Regions from separate parts of the Homo sapiens genome. Here all the other regions are reported to be linked to region 4. Evidence: microRNA targets listed by miRTarBase, many of them from high-throughput screens and not tested one by one. Region 4 holds a microRNA gene; each other region holds the end of a gene's coding sequence. Distances are between the middles of the regions.

What was found. The annotated mature microRNA hsa-miR-149-3p reads AGGGAGGGACGGGGGCUGUGC and lies in region 4 at 1,692-1,712, opposite strand. An mRNA with a match to its seed (bases 2 to 7 or 8) in the 3' UTR can be bound and repressed. Matches are read on the target gene's strand: a 7mer-m8 pairs with bases 2 to 8, a 7mer-A1 pairs with bases 2 to 7 and ends in A, and an 8mer does both.
Region 1: the mRNA of HLA-A is a reported target of hsa-miR-149-3p. Seed matches in the 3' UTR shown: 7mer-m8 at 420-426.
Region 2: miRTarBase lists MIGA2 as a target of hsa-miR-149-3p. Seed matches in the 3' UTR shown: 7mer-A1 at 1,242-1,248, 7mer-m8 at 1,392-1,398, 7mer-A1 at 1,503-1,509, 7mer-A1 at 1,594-1,600, 7mer-A1 at 2,245-2,251 and 7mer-A1 at 2,307-2,313.
Region 3: the mRNA of GPKOW is a reported target of hsa-miR-149-3p. Seed matches in the 3' UTR shown: 7mer-A1 at 3,040-3,046.
Region 5: the mRNA of LINGO3 is a reported target of hsa-miR-149-3p. Seed matches in the 3' UTR shown: 7mer-m8 at 450-456, 7mer-m8 at 455-461, 7mer-m8 at 460-466 and 7mer-m8 at 2,433-2,439.
Region 6: miRTarBase lists GGCX as a target of hsa-miR-149-3p. Seed matches in the 3' UTR shown: 7mer-A1 at 2,337-2,343, 7mer-A1 at 2,470-2,476 and 7mer-m8 at 2,625-2,631.

The regions. Positions count from the first base shown.
Region 1 is chr6:29,945,229-29,948,667 of GRCh38, forward strand. It overlaps HLA-A (major histocompatibility complex, class I, A), which reads left to right. Exons shown (of 8, transcript NM_002116.8): 7 at 6-53; 8 at 223-642. The coding sequence ends at 227. LOC124901298 (a long non-coding RNA gene) reads right to left here and starts at 365. Exons shown (of 3, transcript XR_007059541.1): 1 at 1-365.
Region 2 is chr9:129,069,502-129,072,888 of GRCh38, forward strand. MIGA2 (mitoguardin 2) reads left to right here. Exons shown (of 16, transcript NM_001329990.2): 15 at 348-464; 16 at 746-2,581. The coding sequence ends at 952. Among named protein-coding and RNA genes, the nearest start is that of DOLPP1, 9.9 kb to the right of the region's middle. RefSeq lists enhancers at 256-395, 1,343-2,292, 2,293-3,242.
Region 3 is chrX:49,110,564-49,114,039 of GRCh38, forward strand. It overlaps GPKOW (G-patch domain and KOW motifs), which reads right to left. Exons shown (of 11, transcript NM_015698.6): 10 at 3,290-3,375; 11 at 2,844-3,192. The coding sequence ends at 3,058. Among named protein-coding and RNA genes, the nearest start is that of GPKOW, 11 kb to the right of the region's middle.
Region 4 is chr2:240,454,292-240,457,767 of GRCh38, reverse strand. It overlaps MIR149 (microRNA 149), which reads right to left and starts at 1,767; the gene lies at 1,679-1,767. The region is part of intron 1 of GPC1 (glypican 1); the gene reads right to left. GPC1-AS1 (GPC1 antisense RNA 1) reads left to right here and starts at 1,068. Exons shown (of 3, transcript NR_161169.1): 1 at 1,068-1,171. RefSeq lists an enhancer at 1,817-2,467.
Region 5 is chr19:2,286,959-2,290,429 of GRCh38, reverse strand. It overlaps LINGO3 (leucine rich repeat and Ig domain containing 3), which reads left to right. Exons shown (of 2, transcript NM_001101391.3): 2 at 1-3,266. The coding sequence ends at 432. Among named protein-coding and RNA genes, the nearest start is that of PEAK3, 6.5 kb to the right of the region's middle. RefSeq lists a silencer at 395-504.
Region 6 is chr2:85,547,024-85,550,431 of GRCh38, reverse strand. It overlaps GGCX (gamma-glutamyl carboxylase), which reads left to right. Exons shown (of 15, transcript NM_000821.7): 15 at 306-3,408. The coding sequence ends at 498. Among named protein-coding and RNA genes, the nearest start is that of MAT2A, 9.6 kb to the right of the region's middle.

The DNA of each region.
Region 1 (3,439 bases), not on the chromosome of region 4:
CCCAGGCAGTGACAGTGCCCAGGGCTCTGATGTGTCCCTCACAGCTTGTAAAGGTGAGAGCTTGGAGGACCTAATGTGTGTTGGGTGTTGGGCGGAACAGTGGACACAGCTGTGCTATGGGGTTTCTTTGCATTGGATGTATTGAGCATGCGATGGGCTGTTTAAGGTGTGACCCCTCACTGTGATGGATATGAATTTGTTCATGAATATTTTTTTCTATAGTGTGAGACAGCTGCCTTGTGTGGGACTGAGAGGCAAGAGTTGTTCCTGCCCTTCCCTTTGTGACTTGAAGAACCCTGACTTTGTTTCTGCAAAGGCACCTGCATGTGTCTGTGTTCGTGTAGGCATAATGTGAGGAGGTGGGGAGACCACCCCACCCCCATGTCCACCATGACCCTCTTCCCACGCTGACCTGTGCTCCCTCCCCAATCATCTTTCCTGTTCCAGAGAGGTGGGGCTGAGGTGTCTCCATCTCTGTCTCAACTTCATGGTGCACTGAGCTGTAACTTCTTCCTTCCCTATTAAAATTAGAACCTTAGTATAAATTTACTTTCTCAAATTCTTGCCATGAGAGGTTGATGAGTTAATTAAAGGAGAAGATTCCTAAAATTTGAGAGACAAAATAAATGGAAGACATGAGAACCTTCCAGAGTCCACGTGTTTCTTGTGCTGATTTGTTGCAGGGGAGGAGAGTAGATGGGGCTGTGCCCAGTTTCTGTTCTGGCCACCATGGGCTTTATGTGGTCACAGCTCACCTGGGTCATCTTTGCTGCTCCATTGTCCTTGGCCCTTCAGTAGAACCTTGTCCCACCAAGACCTGTGATCACAGGGAGTTGGATGTCACCTAGGGTGGTCCCTGCATACAAATCTCCTTGTGGTATCAAGAGACAAATTTTCAGACCTGTCCAGGTCTTGCCTTCCTCCCAGGGCTTTTTCCTTAATGGTATTTTCGATTTTTCTCCAATCTTTTTAAAGGAACCAGATTGTGACATTTGCAGAGAGGAGGGGTCCCATAGTTTCTCATCATGGTTAACTTTCTGTTGGAACTCCTCTTCTGCCCTCCTACTCTTCTTCCTGCTCTGAGTTGTAGTAATCCTAGTGCTGGCTCCAATCCAAACTCATAGATTTATAAAGCAGAGTCTAATTTAGATTCATATGTGGTTGGAAAATTGTACCCATAAGGCTAGGGTTATTGTTCCTGAAGAGAAATATATGGTTTTGTGCTGAAGTGTGCAGGAGGGTTGGTGTGGGAGGAGGGAGGACATACAAGCAGCCCTGGTGAGAAAAGCACTGGCGGCATGGATGTCCACGTGAACTTATGTTCTTTAGCTGCCACAAAACAGCATTTGCCCTGTGGCTACATTAATAAAGATATGGGCTTTAGAATAGGGAGGTGCTCTACAGTGATCATTCATTCAACTGACATTTGTTGTCTGCTAGGGATATGACTGCTTTTGCATTTAGAAAGCATCCTTAAAGTAAAAACAGAAAAATGTCTGGGGTTATGGTGCATACGTTCTAGATGCAGGCTTGTCCAACCCGCGGCTCGTGGGCTGCATGTGGCCCAGGACAATTTTGAATGTGAGGACTTTTTTGCTTATCTGTGGTGAACCTGAGTCCTGGAGTGAGTGCACCCACCTCCCTCAGGGTCAGGAGTGAATGCTTTAGGAACCCTCCTTTTCAGTGACCTGCAAAAGATAGAGGGCACATTTACTGTGATAACCCAGAGTATCAGCCAAGGGGGCTTGACCTTCAAGGAGTTGTGGGGAAGGTTAATAAAGGGTGGTGTCCCAGGGTCAGAAAAGATGGGCAGACAGCAAGGGCACTGCTTGATATCTATGATAAGCATGTGGAATTGAGGAGCAAGCTTCAGATTCAGAATCCAGTGACTAAGGACATATCTATATCCCTAAGAGAAAGAACCTTGGGACACGATGATGGTTATATGCTGGGACAATTCCATCAGCCCTTCTGCAAAGGAGCCTATAGCCATTTAATCAGGAGATGGGATAAGTATTAACATTGGGTGTGAGCTGACATTGCTGCCCAGATTCCTACAGCACCATTATGTCCCCCATCACACTGGGGCTTACAGAGGCCAGGGAATAAACCTAGATACATTATGCCCCATGGTGGAATCACCAGTTCCATAAATCCTGTCCTGGTTATCTCCCCATTCTCTGAGTGCATAATTGGCCTTGATGCACTGGCAACTGGAGTCACCCCACACTGTGTCCCTAGTCTGGAGAGTAAGGGATCTCACTGTGCTGAAGCCCAAAGGGAAACATCCCTCATCCAAGCCAAACCAGAAGCAATATTGTGCCTCAGGGTGGGTCTTGTGGAGGGTACTGCAGGTATTATAGGGGTGGCACTGCCATTACAGACCTGAACGATGTGGGGTGGTGTTGGGATTGCCTGTTATCTCCATATAACTCAGCAATCTGTACCTGCAGAAGCCTGATATGGCTAAAGAATGAATGGAATTACTCCAGACTTGACCAAGTAGGAGTCCTGATTGCAGCTGCCATGCTGGCTGGATATCACTGCCTGGGGAGATTAATAAGGCCTCAGGCACATGGCAAGCAGCTGTGGATTTGGTGAGTGCATTCCCTCCCATTTCATTTAGAAGATGGATATGGAATGATTCACATTCACATGGGATTTATAATACATTTATTGATAGCTTGCATCAGGGCTACCTTAACTCCTCAACCTTCTATAAATATCACCTTAAGAGACCTGGACGAATCAGACATCCCACAGAATACTAAATCTCTTCATTTCATTGGCAATATCACATAAATTGGGAAGGATGAACAACAGCAGGAAAGTACGCTGAATTCCCTGGCAAAACATGTGCACTACAGAAGGTGAAGATAAAACTTACAGAGCTTCAAGAGTGGCCACTGCAGTGAAGTGTTATGGGTCCAGTGGTTAGGGGCATGCAGAGCTCCCCGCCGCCACACACACACACAAAGTAAAAGACACACTTGCATCTTGCATCCTCACCAGAAGGAAGGATGCACACTACCTTGTGAGCCTCTCTGGGTTCTAGCAACACCACATTCCACATCTAAGTTTATTGCTTTGGCTGACACTCTGGGTGATATAGGAGGAGGCCAGCTTTGAGTGGGGCCTGGACTGGAAAGGACACTGCAGCAGACCCAGGCTGTGGTGCAGTCAGTCACCATCCCTCAGACCCCTGGTGCTGGAGGTGGCGGTCTGGGGAAAGAAGCAGGATGGAGCTGAACCAAGCATCAGTGGGAAAGTCAGAATGCAGGGCCTGGGATCAGGAGTAAGGCCATGGAGTCCACAGCAGAGAAACATGCTCCATGTTAGAAGCAACTTTTAGCATGTTACTGGCCCTGATAAGATAGAATGCTTGAGCATAGGACACCAAGCAACCATGTGATTCCAAGTGCCCGTGTGTATTGGCTTC
Region 2 (3,387 bases), not on the chromosome of region 4:
CCCAGGCAGCGACTGGCTGTGCTATCTGGCCTGTGGTTTGTCGTTCCCCTCTGCGGGCCAGGCTCTGTTGCCTAGCTGATACCAGCTGCCGTGGCCACGTGCTCCAGGCACTTCCCGCGGAGCCACTATGGCCCCACCTCTTGCAGTACTCACAGCGGCCCATGGTTACCCTGTCTGCAGAAGTTAAAATGGGCTTCGAAAGCTTGAGTCACTGCCCAGGGTCATCTAGCAGGAAAGTACATGAGCTGGGGCGACCTCTAAAGCCCAGCCCTTTATGCGACACCTGGGCCTGGTGCCCTCATCCTACCTGGGCCCCGCCTGGCCCCTCAGCCTTGTGCCCACCGCAGGTGCCTGATGGCTTCATCTCCCATTTCTACTCCGTATCGGAGCATGTGAGCCCTGTCCTAGCCTTCGGCTTCCTTGGACCCAAGCCTCAGCTTGCTGAAGTCTGTGCTTTCTTCAAGGTAAACAGAGAGCAGTTCTCGTTCTTTCCTGACCCTTGCCCTGAGCACAGGCGCCCTGGGAGGTGCCAGGAATGGGATGAGGGCCTGGGCCTGGGCCTGCTCCCAGAGAGAGGGCAGAGCCAGACCCACATGGGTCCAGAGGAAGCAGTGGGAGGGAGGAGCCTGGGGATGGAAAGGACCGGCTGGGGCTCTGGTGGTGGACAAGGGGACTTCAGGTAACCTGGGGGGCATCATGGTGGGCAGTGGCTGGGCCAGGCCTGACACCAGCCCTGCTCCCCCAGCACCAGATTGTGCAGTACCTGAGGGACATGTTCGACCTGGACAATGTGCGCTACACGTCACTGCCCGCGCTGGCAGACGACATCCTGCAGCTGTCCCGGCGCCGCAGCGAGATATTGCTGGGGTACCTGGGGGTGCCCGCGGCCAGCAGCGCAGGCGTGAATGGGGCGCTGCCCCGAGAGAATGGGCCCCTGGGGGAGCTGCAGTAGAGGCGGCACGGGCTGGGGGGTGGCAGAGAGAAGGCTCCTCCTCCCTTCCCTGGGTTGGTATCTGACAGCTGTGGTGGCTGAGGGCCGTTGCCCCTGACTTTGCCCCACCCCCATCATCTGGGAGTCCCCAAGGCCCAGAGGGGACATTTCCATGGAGAAGAACGGTTCCTGGGGGAAGCAGAGGCCAGGACCAGTGGGGCCTGTGGGAGAGAAAGGCTGTGAGAGAGGGGGTTGTTGTGGAGAATTGGGACAGGCAGAGCCAGGATGCCCCAGGTGGGGGACCCCAAAACCTCCCATCGCTCCAGGGCTGCTGACAAGGGTGCTGGGAGGGTGGAGGTGAAGGATGGGGCCTAGAGCCCTGTGGTGAAGGTCACAGTGTCCTGAGCTAGAAGCCACCTGTGGCTATATGGTCTCAGCATCCAGCTGGCCTGTCCTGATGCCCTCCCCACCTCAACCGCCTTCTCAGAGAGTTTGCAACTCCAGAGAAGGAGAGTGGGGCCACCTTAGTGGGCAGCAGGCCTGGGCCATCCAGAGATGGGGCAGAGGTGGGCCTCCCACTCCTGTGCTCTCTTCTGAGCAGGAACTGGGCCCTTGACAGTGTCCTTTGACATTCCCTCGCCCTACCAAAGATCGTCTTTTCTCCTCCCACCTCTGTCACCACCAAAGACGGGCGGAGGTGGGGCTGGGCCCTCCTGCCCCCGCCCATCCCCCTTCCATGAGCCCAGACCTCCCTGGGTGGTGCTAGGCTCTGAGCTGGGGGCTCAGACCAGGGATCGCTCAGGCCCCTGTCACCTGTGGGCCCGGGGACCACTTGGGGGAGGTCAGAGGATGTATGTGGCCGGACCAGCTTCCCCACCTTCATTAGGACAAGAAACTGCCCAGCACTTTGCCTTCAGTTCAACGCACAAACGCTCCTGGGGCCTCATGGGGGCAGAGCCTCCCCTGGGCCTGCAGAGAGTCCTGTTAGCAGCGACGTCCCCCCGCCGCGGGGTCCTGTCAGCCCGGCAGTGTCTTCTCAGTGTCTTCACCTGAGCGAGTGTCTGTGGCCCCAACGCGTTCTGCTGTGGCTCTGCCCTTTCCAGGTTGAGAGGCCTGCAGGAGAAACACACTCCCCTCCTGGGTTTCCACACTCAGGAGGTCAGAGGACTGGCTCCTGTGACCAGGGCCCCTCTCCCCTGAATGGGAAAGGGGTCTGGGGATGGGAGGGCGCACCACAGAGAGGAGATGATGCTGGGTGTGGCCCATCTTCTGTGGGCCCCTTCCCAGACACCGGATCCATGGGCACTAACCCGCCTCCCAGGCTGATGCCCGGAGGCAGCTTCCTGGGCAGGAGGGTTCCATGGGCACTAACCCACCTCCCAGGCTGATGCCTGGAGGCAGCCTCCAGGGCAGGAAGGACCCTGTGCTCCCCGCCCCCCATCCTGACATCCTGTTCTTTTGCACTTACCCTGTGCTGTGAATGTAACAGTGGGCCTTGGCCCCGCCCACTCTGATTTGCATTTTCATTTGTGTTTGTTTACACATCCATGCACTGCCTGTAGCAGTCGATTGTCACAGCTTCGACTTTTGGATGGTAGAGTGTGTGCACTGACTGTGAGTCGAATAAACAATTGAGACGATTTCCTTCCACTTTGCCATGTTGTTGGTTATGTGCATGGCTGTTTGCTTCTTGGGGCAGAGCAGGGCACCTGCTTTTTGGGGTGCCGTGGGTGAAGGTTCCAGGAGGACAAAGGTCAGGAGAAGCCTGGTGGGGGCTGTGATCCTACTTGGGGCAACTTGACTGCCTGACAGGATCCAGCCATCCCTAGGCAGGGAGGGCCCCGGTGGTCCGCGGGGAAGGGTGGGGAGCGGCCAGTGCCACGCTCAAGGCCATGGATGCAAGGTGGGCAGCCTGGCTGTGGACCCTGCTCAGGCACCATCTTAGGGAAGTCGATTCTCACTGGCCCTCAGTTTCCACATCTGTAAAATGCAGGCACTGGACCGGGCCAAGATGCAGACTCACAGGCTTAAAGGTTGTTACCCCCCAAGCTGTGAGAGCCAGGGGGAGGGGCTGGAACACTGGGAACAGGTCCAAGCCTGCCGGATCGTTACAAGTTTTCATGGGCAGCTGGAAATCACAAGTTTTATTTTACAGGTTTTTAAAAAAGAAACTTTAAAAAAAAATTTCAAATGTATGGAAAAATTGAAAAAACTATATAAAACCAACACTTCTGGTCATGTAATTAACATTTTGACTTTTTTTTTTTTTTCTTGAGACAGAGTCTCGATCTGTCACTCAGGCTGGAGTGCAGTGGCACGATCTCAGCTCACTGCAAGCTCTGCCTCCCAGGTTCACGCCATTCTCCTGCCTCAGCCTCCCGAGTAGCTGGGATTACAGGCACATGCCACCATGCCCAGCTAATTTTTTTGTATTTTTAGTAGAGACGAGGTTTTAC
Region 3 (3,476 bases), not on the chromosome of region 4:
ACACCAGCCTCCCGGCTGTTCCTCACACATGCTAGCAACAGTGCTACCACAGGGCCTTTGCACTTCATTTCCCCTGTCTAGACCGCTTTCCCCAGATAGCTGCATGACCATCCCTTACTTCCTTAATACCGTTGCTTAATGTCACCTTCTCTCTAAGGCTTTCTGTGGCCATCCTATTAATACTGCCCCTTTCCCCCATGGTTCTCAGCTTCTTATAACATCTTCCATCACTTACTTCTGCTTATTGCTCACTGTCTCAGCCCCAGTGGAGTGTCAGCCCCACAAGGGCAAGGATGTTTGTTTTGTTTGTAGCTCCATACTCGGTACCCAGGATGCTGCCTGGCATATAGTAGGGTCTTGATATTAAGTGATTTACTCCATACGGTTCCCCTAGCATGCAGGATGGTACCTGGCATTCAGTAGGAGCTCAAGAGATGTTTGTTGAATGAATTGGTGTGATAGGGGACTTGGTGAGGACCCGCCCCCACTTAGATAGCTTTAGAAGCTGTTGGATACTTCATCCCTCTGCGTGGTGCTGCAGACATGGAGATGAAGAGGTGGCCTCAGTGTGGGAGTAGAGGGGAGCATTCCCTTGACTGAGGAAGGAATGTTAGAAAAGAGAGCTGAGGCTGGGCATGGTGGCTCATGTCTGTAAACCCAGCACTTTGGGAGGCCGAGGTGGGCAGATCACGAGGTCAGGAGTTTGAGATCAGCCTGACCAACACTGTGAAACCCCGTCTCTACTAAAAATACAAAAATTAGCCGGGCATGGTGGCATGCGCCTGTAATCCCAGCTACTAAGGAGGCTGAGGCAGGAGAATCACTTGAAACTGGGAGGTGGAGGTTGCAGTGAGCCAAGATCACGCCACTGCATTCCAGCCTGGGCGACAGAGCAAGACTCCATCTCAAAAAAAAAAAAAAAAAAAAAAAAAAAAGAGCTGAGGCCAGGAGTGGTGGCTCATGCCTATAATCCCAGCACTTTGGAAGGCCAAGATGGGAAGATCACTTGAGCCCAGGAGTTCAAGACCAGCCTGAGCAATATAGTGAGACCTTGTCTCTCTTATATTTAAAATAAAAAATTATTTAAAAAAAATTTTTTAAAAGAAGAGCTGACCTGTCCATATCTGCCACTGAACACAGCCCAGACAGCAACCCACAGCACCTCAATAATTGACTCCTCTCTGAAAGGCAAAGAAACTGCTTCCTGAGTCTGCTGCTACAAATTCAAGGCTTGGCATCTGGACAATTTTTAACAGAAGCAGACCCCTGCCAGGGAAACTTCTGGGGGCTTGGCAGAAGAGGCAGATGCCTTTTAATCTACCTCTTGCTCAATCCCTGTGATGTGAAAAAAGCCAGTCTGGACAAATTGTACAGGTCACAGTCCCCAGCTTGTGAGGGGCCTGTAGAGAATTCTCGGGCTCACAGAAGCCGTTGCTGCAGTAACCACTGCCGCAAGAGCAACTTTGGCAGCAGGCAGGTGCCAGGCAGCAAGCTGAGAGAACACTGCACAGATTCAAAGTGTCTTCAGATACAAGGCTTTGTTTGTGCACAGTGAACAAAGGGCATATTGGGAAGGCCTCCTTATATTGTCCACACTTCCCTGAATGTAAGGAGCCCTGTCCTCAAAATGGGGATCAGCAGGGCTCCTTTCAAGGTAAAGCAGAAAAAGTCCCAGTGGCCTGTCAAGGGAGACCAGGCGCTTTGGCTGGAGCTAGGTGTTCTGGACAAAGGGCCATATTCAAGAACTTTGGGCCCCATTTTCAAGCGTAGGCTTAGGAGAAAGATGAATTCCAGGAAATCTGAAGCTGATGAGATATCTGCTTTAGCATTGTGGCACGGGGAGGAGATGGAGGGTGTCTGAAATGGCCAGGTTATGTTGTGTTACAGGCAGAGACAGAGCCCCAGTGCCATTCCCTGGGGAGCTTTAGCCCTTCTCAAAGGTGCTACCAAGGCTGGTTTATTATGATTGGAGAAAGGAGGAGGCCTCCTTGACAGAGTGAAGTGCATAAAGCATAGGAAATGGACTACTGGACATGAGAAGTTGGGAACATCCTCCCTACGATTAACAAAATACAAGCCAGAGACCAGGCACGGTGGCTCATTCCAGTGCCTATAATCCCAGCACTTTGGGAGGCTGAGACGGGAAGATCGCTTGAGCCCAGGAGATCAATGCTGCTGTGAGCTATGATTGCACCACTGCACTCCAGTCTGGGCAACAGAGGAAGACCCCAGGCTCAGCATATTCTCTGGGGTCCTGCTCTAAACTGAGAGTGAAAGCATACTCTGCTGCTAGTTGCTAGAGTTCTTGCTCAGAAAGTTGTTCAGAGATACAGTATTTCAGATTCCACAGCATCTAAAGATTTTTTTTTTTTTTTTTGAGACAGAGTCTAACTCTGTCCCCTGGGCTGGAGTGCAGTGGCGCAATCTGGGCTCACAGCAACCTCTGCCTCCTGGGTTCAAGCGATTCTCTTGCCTCAGCCTCCTGAGTAGCTAGGATTATAGGCGTGCACCACCATACCTCGGTAATTTTTTGTATTTTTATACTTTTAGTAGAGACAGGGTTTCACCTTGTTGGCCAGGCTGATCTTGAACTCCTGGGCTCAAGCGATCCATCCACCTCAGCCTCCTAAAGTGCTAGGATTACAGGCATGCACCACTGTGCCCAAGCTTATAGTATCTATATTCCAAGAGTGAGCTCACAATCAAATGAGTCCTTTAACTTGTCCTGTACCCTGAGCAGAAAAGCAAGGCTGAAAAGTGAAATGGTTCCCACCTCAGTCAACTCAGTTCCCACCTTAACTCGCAGCTCATCATACCACTTATGATTTCATCTTTCTATTAAGTACTTGAAATGGTTTTTATTATACCCTAAATTTTGGTAAATATTGGGTTTGTTTCTAGCTTCCCTACTGGTTCACCCATCCCTTTCCCTTGTCCTTGTCCCAGGACTGCACCAGAAGTAGAGGATGGAACAATGATCTTCCCACCTTCTGAAGGCAACTTTCTCATATGGTACAGAACTGGTACCAGCCTGGGGGATGGGAGGAGTCCCATGGGTCAGTCATCATCTGTGTCACTAGGGCCCATGTACTGGCAGATGGCATCGTAGTGAAGCTCCACCACCTGATTTTCTCTTGGCAGTTGCACCAAAGCCCGGCTCCGTGCTCTGTCCCGGCTCAGCAAATGTCCCACCTGGAACAGAGGTGAAGTGGAATCAGCAAGGCAAGCCTAGACCCTGGGACAGGCCCTGAACGACCCACAAACCTCTACTGCCAGGTCTGAGACTCACCCTTCCAGTCTGTGGGCCCAGCACCACCATCACACGGTCACCCTCTGCCTTGGGAACCAGGGTCTCCAGCATGTCTTCCCTCAGGCCTATGGATAAGGGAGAGGGGAGTGAGGCCCACAGCAAGGACCAGCCCAACCAGCGTCCTGTCAGAAGGGCCTTTCCTGGCCAGGCGTGGTGGCTCACACCT
Region 4 (3,476 bases):
AGTGAAGGCCAGGCCAGGGAGGAGAGGCAGGAGAGGGAGCCAGGACCGGGACCGAGGGCGGGGTCAGCCCGGGCAGAGGCACCTGGCTCGAGGCTGTCCTGGGGGAGCTGGCAGCAGCTCCAGCCCTGCCTGGAGGTGGGAGCAGGGATCTGTAGCCCCACTGCAGGCAGGGCCTGGAGCAGCGCAGGCAGTGCCCTACCCGCTTACTGCAAGAGAAGTCACCCCTCAGGCCTGGGGTCCAGGAAGCCCTTACCCACTAGAGGCCATCTGGGGTGGGGACCCAGGACTAGGTAACTACCCAGAGGTTGAATGCCTGGGTCAGACTGAGTTTGCTGATCTTCCGCACCCTCTAAGTACACACACTCAGGGAGGAGCCCGAGACAAGAGAAGGGAACAGAGAACCCGAATCCGGGCTTGGGCGGCTGCCGCTTGGCCCCTGTAGCCTCTGTGCCTGCTGACATGACAGCAAGGAGACAGGTTGTCAGAGGGGCCTGGGAGAGCGAGGGAGGGCCGAGGTAGGGGTTCTTATCCTGGAGCGCTCCCTCCTTGCCCTCTTTTCCTGTCTGAGTTCTGGAATGTACTGATGCAGGGGGCTCTGGCTTGAGCTAGAGGGGGAGGGAGTCCTCCGCAGGGGCTGCAGGTCCAGGGATTCCCCAGGGCCTGGACTTACATGTGCCCATGCTGCAGACAGAGCGGGAATGGCAAGTGCACCTGCGCCCCCCGCCCCTCCTTACCTCCAGATGCCTGCTGGAGGGGGAGTTGGGGGTCCAACAGAGTCTGGGGCCAGGAGGGCCTTGTGGGAGCCAGCTGGGGTGAGGACAGAGCCCGGCTCTGAGAGCCCTGGGGCCTAGTAGAGAAGGGGTGCTCCTTCCCCACTCCTCACATGGGTGGGAAGGCGCCCTCAGGCAAGAAGACTGGGACACAGGTACACTCGCCAGGGACCATCCTTCACTCTGCAGCCTTTATTCACTGATGGGATTCTGCCCCAGTCCCACCCCCGTGGGGGCAGGATTTAGAGCAGGAACCGCCCCTCCGGGTCCTTTCCTGGGGCCTGTGCCAGGCTGAGCAGACTCAGGAGGCGTCTCTCCGAGGGTGTGGGCTGTGATGGGGCCCTGTGCACCCATCCAGGCTGCCCAGACCAGGAGAGCACAGGTCAGCCGGACACATGATGGTAATGGGCTGGGCAGTGGGAGGGAAACGTGCCTGGGGGAGGGGGTGGCAGGTGCCAGCTGAGCTTCCCGGTGACACACCCTGGGCTCAGCTGAGATGGGCTCAGCTGTGACGGGGCACCCAGGCCAGGCTGGCTGGGCCACAGGAACCGAGTGAGCTGGTCCAAGACTCAGGACTAGGGCTCAAGCACTCCTAGGGAGGAGGGTGGGTGGCGTCCCCCGCCGGCTCCTCCTGTGCCCCTCCCTCGCGAGGTCCCGGCGGACCCACTCCCCAGCCCCCACCACGCAGACGGGAGAGGCTGACGAGAGGCATGGAGAGGTGAGGCCCGAAACACCCGTAAGATATGGGAGCTCCCCCCACCTGCAGGTTCTGAGGGGCTCCTCGGCGCCGTCAGCCACCTCTCACACCCCCTCACGGCCGCGCACCGGCCCCCGCGCCTCAGCCTCCCCCGCCGACCCCTCAGCCCCGCCCGGCCAACTCGCCCAGCCGGCCCGGCGACCTGCGTTGTTCCAGCTGCCCCAGCACAGCCCCCGTCCCTCCCTCCCTCCTCGGACAAGCACGGGAGTGAAGACACGGAGCCAGAGCTCGGGCGCCGGCCTGGGAGCCCCCGGCAGGCTGGACGCAAGGCGGGCGAAGGCCTGGGAGCCTCGGGCAGGCTGGATCGAGGCGGCCCCCTGAGGCCCGCTGCAGGCTGGACGCACGGCAGTCAAAGGCAGGAGGCCTCCCGCTGGCTTCCTTCTGCGGAGCTCCGGCCCGGCGCAGGCCGGGGCCACAGGTTGTGGTCCTGGACATGAGATGGCAGAGGCCGGCTCTGCAGAGTCCCCCTGCAGGGCGGCAAAGCAAGCCCCCTCCTGGAAGAATGCCAGGGGCTGGGGCCTTTCTGAATGGAGAGCAATGTGCCCAAGACCAGCTGTCATCTTAAATCTCCCCACCCAGGGGCCTCCCCACCCCCAGGGGCCTCCCCACCACTTCTCTCAGCTCAACACCTGGGGATAGAGAGGCCTCAGGCCAGGAGGGAACCCTCCCCATGTCCCTCTCCCTCTCCTTCCTGGCCTTTCTCCTCCTCCAACCCAGAGGGAGGCATTTTCCAACCTAGGGGGTGAGTCCCGGCAGCCCATCCCCTTCCCCCCGTGCAGGGAGGCATCTGGGCCCTTCCGGCCCACCCCTCCCTCTGGCCCTGGGGCTGCTCAGGTCAAGGTCACCGGGCCTGCTCCCCGCTGGGCCAGGGACTGGACCCTCTCTTCCCTGATCCCTGGGCTGAAGTTGCTGTAGCCGACCCATCCTTCCACAGCGCTCCCCTCCCTCAGTCACTGGGACACTTCCCTTCCCCAGTGCTCTGAGGATTTTTTTGGGGGGGAAGGGGATTATTTGTTTAATGGCAGATTCATCCCCCACCTCAAACCCAGAGTCTCCAGTTCCCAGGCTCCTGCTCCTCAGGTTAAAGCACAGAGCTCTTGCTCCCTGGCTCGTAGGCAGCTGCTGTCTCGTTCCATCTTCCCCCTCCCGATCCTGACGGTTCTGGACCACCCCACTCTGCTGCTCCTCACTAAGCCCCCACCAGCCTTAACTTTGGATACCTTTTAGGTCATGCATTCTCGTCCCCTGCTGACATGTCCCCACCCCGCAGTTTCCTCTTGGTCATCAGCACCTTCACCCCAAAGCTTTAGGCGAGACTCCCATCCTGACAGTGGCCCCCATCCCCAATGATGGACCCAGACCTCATTTGTCCAGACCCAGCCTGGCAGCTGCCCGTGACCAGTGGCTCTGGAGCCCTCCCAAGGAGAATGCAGAGAGATGATGGCGCCACGCCACGCCCATCCCTCCAGAAGCTTCCACGGCTCACACAGGAGGTGCAGACTGTAAAGCCGGCTTTATCCACCTTTACAGCCTCGTCCTAGACACTCAGTGTCAACAGACTCGAATGCCTAAGGTACCGGAATTTGGCGTGGACAGTCAGCCTGCATTGCCTCCCACGGTGCTGGAGTAGGGCTGTGTGCAGAGCTCCAGGCACCGCAGCCCCCCAACACGCAAGGGAAGAGCCTAGGCCTCCCCGCTCCTGCCCTCTACTCAGCTCTGCACCCGGCAACGGGGCCTTCCTGGCTGGCCGATGGCTGCGAAGGCTTTCCCCAAGCCCGAACCCTCTTCTCGAAGCCTGCCCCAGCCCCTGGCCCATCTGCTCTCGGACCCCAACCAGCTCCGGTGGCTGTGGCATCCTCCGGCACGTCCAGCAGCCTCCTGGGGTGAGGGTGCACTGGACAAACGACCCAGGGGGTTTCCTGGGGACCACCCACTGCCCAGGCTGCAGA
Region 5 (3,471 bases), not on the chromosome of region 4:
ACGGCCACCAGCGCGGGCCGGGCGCGCGTGCTCCCCGGGGGGACGCTGGAGATCCAGGACGCGCGGCCGCAGGACAGCGGCACCTACACGTGCGTGGCCAGCAACGCGGGCGGCAACGACACCTACTTCGCCACGCTGACCGTGCGCCCCGAGCCGGCCGCCAACCGGACCCCGGGCGAGGCCCACAACGAGACGCTGGCGGCCCTGCGCGCGCCGCTCGACCTCACCACCATCCTGGTGTCCACCGCCATGGGCTGCATCACCTTCCTGGGCGTGGTCCTCTTCTGCTTCGTGCTGCTGTTCGTGTGGAGCCGCGGCCGCGGGCAGCACAAAAACAACTTCTCGGTGGAGTACTCCTTCCGCAAGGTGGATGGGCCGGCCGCCGCGGCGGGCCAGGGAGGCGCGCGCAAGTTCAACATGAAGATGATCTGAGGGGTCCCCAGGGCGGACCCTCCCCTCCCCTCCCCCGCGGGCCGGCCGCTCGCGTGTCCACCTATGCATTTCCCGGAGGGGAAGGGGACGGCTGCACGGCGCTCCCCAGGCAGAACTTCCCCTTTTTTTGTAGACGCCCAACCGCAGGACTGTTTTTCATCAGCATGCGTCTTTTTTGCAGTTTCTCAAGCGTTTTCTAAAGATTTCAACCCGTCTTCCTGTCCCTGCTATGGTGGCTGAGCTGGGGGGTGGGGGTGCGGGCTGCAAGGATGGGGGGATGGGCTCCCGTCTACCAACCCGGGGTGGCTGGGGGCGCTCAGAGACCCCAGGATCCTCAGGGCCCGCAATTCACACCCAGGAGGCACAAGACTGCTGCCCCCAAGCCCTGGGCTTCCGCTCCCCCAGCCCTTTGTACACAGATCGCATCGGGGAGACGGTGGACACCCGGGTCCCACAAAGGGCCCCACAGCCCCAAGGGGAGGGTGCGCAGAAAGTCTGCATTGCTCACACCTGGCCGTCCTACACCTCACACCCAGAGACACACTCACACCTGGAACCCAATCACACAGGTGCAACACACCTCACACCCAGCCGACACTAAAACCAGACCCGGGGCACCAGAGCTGACCGCAGGGGGCAGGCAGGGCTCTCGTGAGAGCAAAGCTCACACCCGGGACAGGCGCAACTCACACCCGGGACACACAGCTCACACCCAGGACACACACAGCTCACACCCAGAACACACAGCTCACACCCGGGACACACAGCTTACACCCGGGAAACACAGCTCACACCCGGGACACACAGCTCACACCCGGAACACAGAGCTCACACCCGGGACACACAGCTCATACGCAGGACACACTCAGCTCACACCTGATACAAGGACAGCTCACAGTGGAACACACAGCTCACACCCGGGATACAGCTCACACCCAGGACACACTCAGCTCACACTGGAACACACAGCTCACACCCAGAACACAGAACTCACATCTGGGACACACACAGCTCACACCCGAGACACACACCCTCACACCCAGCTGACACTAAAACCAAGCCCTGGGCACCAGAGCTGACCACAGAGGCAGGCAGGGCTCTCGTGAGAGCACAGCTCACACCAGGGACATGCTCAGTTCACACCTGGGACAGGCACAACGCATAACTGAGACACAGCTCACACCTGGGACACAGAGCCCACCCCAGCGCCTGCTCAGCTGAGCATCTCCCAGCCGACCTCGGGGCCTGGGCTCAGGTCTTGCTGAGGACCCAGCACACACGGTGGTCACAGTCAGGGGTCCACACGCCCTGTCCTCCGTCCTCCCCACAGCCCAGCAGGGCTGTCCACAAGAAGGAGCCATCACCCCAGCCCTCCGCCTCCCTCCGCTGCCACGTGCTTCCCAGAACAGCAGGCAAGAGAGGGCCACCCCACAAGGGAGAGGTGGCCACCCTGCCCCGGCCCAGAACCATGGCTTCTGGGGTGCTGAGTGTCCTTCCAAATGGGTCTACTGGAGGGACTTTTGCCCCTAGGTACACATGACCTCTGAGCCGGCCTCAGACAAGCCCTGAGCGTGGCCCCATCATGGCCGGCCCTGCTGACCCGTGGCTCAGGTGGGGAACGAGACCAAAGAGCACAGGGGGTTCCCGGGGATCCCGGCTACGTGCGGTGCAGTGTAGTGACAAGAACAAGGCCGGAACAAGGGCTTCACCCTGCAGGGAGGCCTGGACCCGGGTCCTCGGGAGAAGGTGATGGAGGAAGCTGGGTCTCTGCACCTGCAGAGGTGGGGCAGATCCAGGACCAAAGCTGGGGTCACAGGCCGACTGCAGCTCTGGTCAAGGAAGAGCTTCCCTGAGGTCACCGCCCGGTTGCTCTGCAGATGGTGGGCATCCTGTCACGGGGGGCAAACAAGCAGGAGCTGAGGTTTTGCAGAAGGATTCAGGCACCAGACCGGGACCACAGGGACCATCTGTGACCTGGCCTCCTCACAGCCAGTTCTTGCCCCTCCCCTCCACATCCTCCAGAGGACAGTTAGGACATTGCTGGGGGCAGGGACAGGAACCACTGTTGGGCCAAAACCTCAGCCAGAAAGGGGCTTGGCTGCCAACCAAGAGGTTAGGACAGACCCTCCAGGACTTTGCGGGAAGGGCTCAAAAGCAGCTCTGCTCCTGCCCGGCTATGTGATCTCAGCTGGTGACTGAAGACCACCTAGACCATCAGTGTCCTCATCTGTAAAATGGGTCTGAGGGTCAAACCTATTACCCTGTATTCAGAGGCCAGGCCTGCAGATGAGCTTGATGGCTTGACTTGGATCCTGGATCCCTGAAGACTGCTCTGAGATCGATCAGCCAGAGAGAAACAGAGAGAAAGCTGGCTCAGCCCTGAAGGCTTTGAGCAAAAGTTTCAGAAGGAGCTGGAAGGAGACAACAGCCCGTTCTCCCTGAGCTGTGGCCGGGAGGGCCCAGGCCAGCACCACGATGTACAGATGGCCCAGGGGGCTCGACATGAGTGAGGGCTGAAGTTCGTGCAACCCCAACCGCCACCCCTGAATTGGGCAGAACCAATTTTTTTCTTAGCACCTGTCTGACTCTGCTTACCATGACAACCCCAAGGGCCCCCCAGAATTGATATCCAAGTGCCTTTAGCCTATCAAAGACAGGAGGGGGTGCATTCTCGGCCAGGTTAGGGTTCACAGAGCATCCGTATATTAGGATTTCCCAGCCCCCTGAGCCCCCCACCCCATCCCAACATGAACTAAGACCCCTCAGCACCCCCACCCCTCATCCTGCTGTATTTGGTTCAAATCCAATAAAAATGGAACCGATTTAATAACAAACTTCAGATTTTGTTCTTACTCCCATGGGAGCAACAGGGGGCAGGGCTGAGGGATGAGGGGCTGCTGGGGTCCCCAGGGGAAGCCAACCCTGAGGGAATTCCACGCCACTAGTGACATGTGATAGGCCACACTTCTGCAGCGCCCATGCTGTTCCCGGCGCTGTTCCAGGCGCTGTGTGTGTTCCCTCCTTTCACGCTGAGGCCAG
Region 6 (3,408 bases), 150 Mb from region 4:
CCTGCCATTCTTCTTGATTTACTGGAAGAATAAGTGGCCTATATCTGATGGCCTGCTTTCTTGTTCTGCCTCAGCTTATCTCCAGCCTCTCTGTGGGCTGTTCCTACCCTATCCTGGAATCCTCTACCAGACTGTATAAAGAGTGGTGTACCCTTCCAGCTGGGAGATGGAGGGTCACTTGGGGGGAGATTCCCATATATGCCTGTGTGGGAGGAGTGAGGACCAGGTGCCTTCTAAGGGCTTTAGCTGAAATTCTTCTGGTGAAACAGGAGTTTGAACTTGGTCGGCTTTTTCCTGTTTTTCAGCTTCCTGATGACTTGTATCTCACTTCGAAATCTGATATTAGGCCGTCCTTCCCTGGAGCAGCTGGCCCAGGAGGTGACTTATGCAAACTTGAGACCCTTTGAGGCAGTTGGAGAACTGAATCCCTCAAACACGGATTCTTCACATTCTAATCCTCCTGAGTCAAATCCTGATCCTGTCCACTCAGAGTTCTGAAGGGGGCCAGATGTTGGGTGCAGATGTAGAAGCAGCCAGTCACAGACCCATTCTATGCAATGGACATTTATTTGAAAAAAATTCTCAAAAGTTTTTTTTTTTTTTTTGGGGGGGCGGGGTTCTAAAGCTGTTTTTAACTCCGAGATTACAACTTAGAGGAACCAAGGAAATAAAGCAAATAAGATTTAACAACCCAAGATTAAGAGGCCAGGAAGAGGTTAGACGCAATGTGAAACTGTCCTCCTAGGATAAGGTTTAAAGTGGCTTTTTGGGGGCTGGGTGCCGTGGCTCACGCCTGTAATCCCAGCATTTTGGGAGGCTGAGGTGGGCAGATCACTTGAGGCCAGGAGTTCGAGACCAGCCTGGCCAACATGGCAAAACCCCTTCTCTACTAAAAATACAAAAATTAGCCAGACGTGGTGGTGGGTGCCTGTAATCCAACTACCCAGGAGGCTGAGGCATGAGAATCGCTTGGGCCCAGGAGGTGGAGGTTGCAGTGAGCCGAGATCGAGCCACTGCACTCCTGGGCAACAGAGCAAGACTTCGTCTCAAAATAAATAAATAAAGTGGCTCTTGGGGAAAAGCAATTTAATGTACCACGATGAATAGCTAACTGTTCCCAAGTGTTTGCTATGTGCAACACACCGCGTGAGCAGTGTTACCTGCATTATTACATTAGGCTGAGAGGTAAAATAATTTGCCCGAAGACATACAGCTAGTGACGAATGGACTGATGGTTTGAACTTAACGTCTATTTGACTTAAGGTCCTGCACCCTGCCACTTGTAATTTTCAGAATCACTGATAATCTGAAATAATGCAGCTTAAAACATGTTTTCTTAATTAAAAGTATAATTGGATGGTGGTCAGGTTGTAAATGCACACAAAGTAATTTATCTTCATTGCAATTTTGGTTCCTTCTTTGTTCCTATTATCTATATACACCCAGTGTTTCACTAGCAGTTATGAGAGCAGTCAGAATAGCAGCATCAAAGTTAAATAAGGAAATCTAGATGATTGCTAGATTTTCTCTAAAAATAAGCTTAGTATTTGGTATTATTCTAGCCTTTGGTGAGCAGAAGGGGAGGTAAAGTAAGAATTAACTAAATTTAGTAAGGGATTAGGGAATGCTTAGACATTTTGTAGGTTGGGGTATACAAGGGTAACTCAGGAAGCTCCTCAGTTCAGTGAAAATTCAAAGGGTTGGCACTGAGCTAGGAAGCGAGAATGCAGGGTTATGAAAAAGGATCCCTGCTTTGGGAGCTCATGGACTTGTAGCAGAGACCGGTAGTAAATTGGCAGTCTCAGTAACTTCTGTAAATGATTGCATCTCTTTGCAGGCTTCTCTTCCCATACTCTCCCCCACTCCTCCTTGGACAGTGTTCCGGGGGTTCTTTCCTAAGCAACTGCTTTTTCAGTATACATACTTCAGATGATTGTGTCTACTCCAGGATTTCCAACGATGCTAGGTTTCTTTCCTGTGCCCTAGACGTATAGGTCTAAGTTCCACCTGGATATCCCACAGGGCTATCAAGCTCAGTTCATCCTAAACAGAACTTACATTCATCCCCAACTCAGACTTCCTTATTCTTTATTATTGAATGGCAGCTCTGTACCTTAGCCAAGCTGTTATCTCTAGGTCATCAGCCTTGACTCTTCCTTTTTCCTTGCATTTCTTAAAATTGCCAAGTCCCATCAATTTTACCTCCTGGATACCTCTTGAATCTATTTTTTTTTAAAGACAGGGTTTCACTCTATCACCCAGGCTGGAGTTCAGTGGCACAATCTTGGCTTACTGCAGCCACCACCTCCTGGGTTTAAACGATTCTTCCACTTCAGCCTCCCATGTAGCTGGGACTACAGGTGCCCACCACCACGCCCAACTAATTTTTGTATTTTTAGTAGAGACATGGTTTCCCACATTGGCCAGGCTGGTCTCAAACTCATGACCTTAAGTATCCACCTGCCTTGGCCTCCCAAAGGGCTGGGATTACAGGTGTGAGCCACCGTGCCCAGCCAAATCTGTTTTCATTACTACCTATATCTGTATTTTCAACCTTTGTATTAGCATCTAGTTAGGGATAGACCAGGACAGGGCCGACATGTTAGTTGTCAAGCAGATTGCCACCCTCCCCCACCACTGAGGAGGCCAAATGGAGTTTGGTGGAAAATCTCTAATTCATTCAAGGTATTATATGGGCAAGCAATGGCTGTGGCACAGGGTCCCCTGATTACTTTGTAAGAATGGGTGGGAGGGATGCTGATTTTCAATCCTTTTGCAGATCTTCTCTCATAGTAACACAATAGAAGATACTTTGCCACTATGTTGTTTGCCAAACTCACTGTACCTACTTGACTGGTAACAAAAGTCCCAAGAGTTACTTGGGAGAAGACACTTGAAAAAGTATTTTTCTAAATATGGGCAAGGATGCTGCCCTTCCCCAAACTGTTAGTATACCACCTCTCTGACCAATTTTCCCAAGGAAGATATTGGGGTAGGGTGAGGTGTAAAGAAAAAGTGGTCATGTAAATACTGGTAATAAAAGCTGTTCAGTGGGGTAGAGTTGGGTTGCAACTGTAGCCATTCTAAAAATGGGCTATCAATGTCCTTTTAGCCAAAAGACTTTAGTATACATCCTCCTCATTCTACCCTCAGGATTTGGATCTTTGCCCCTGATGGGTATCCATCCCCTTTGAAACTTTAGAAAGGCAGGTTATATACAGAATGTTCAACCTAAAGACATTTCCTTAAGTCATACTTTCATGCTTTCTAAACTATAATCACCCTTATCATCCCCTGCTGTTATGCTTTCCCTCTGCTCCCTGTGGCCTAATGTTCCTCCACCACCTTATTAACCTTCAGGATACTTTTCCCCTAGGCTGGGCAGGACAACACTATCCCCTTGGTCCA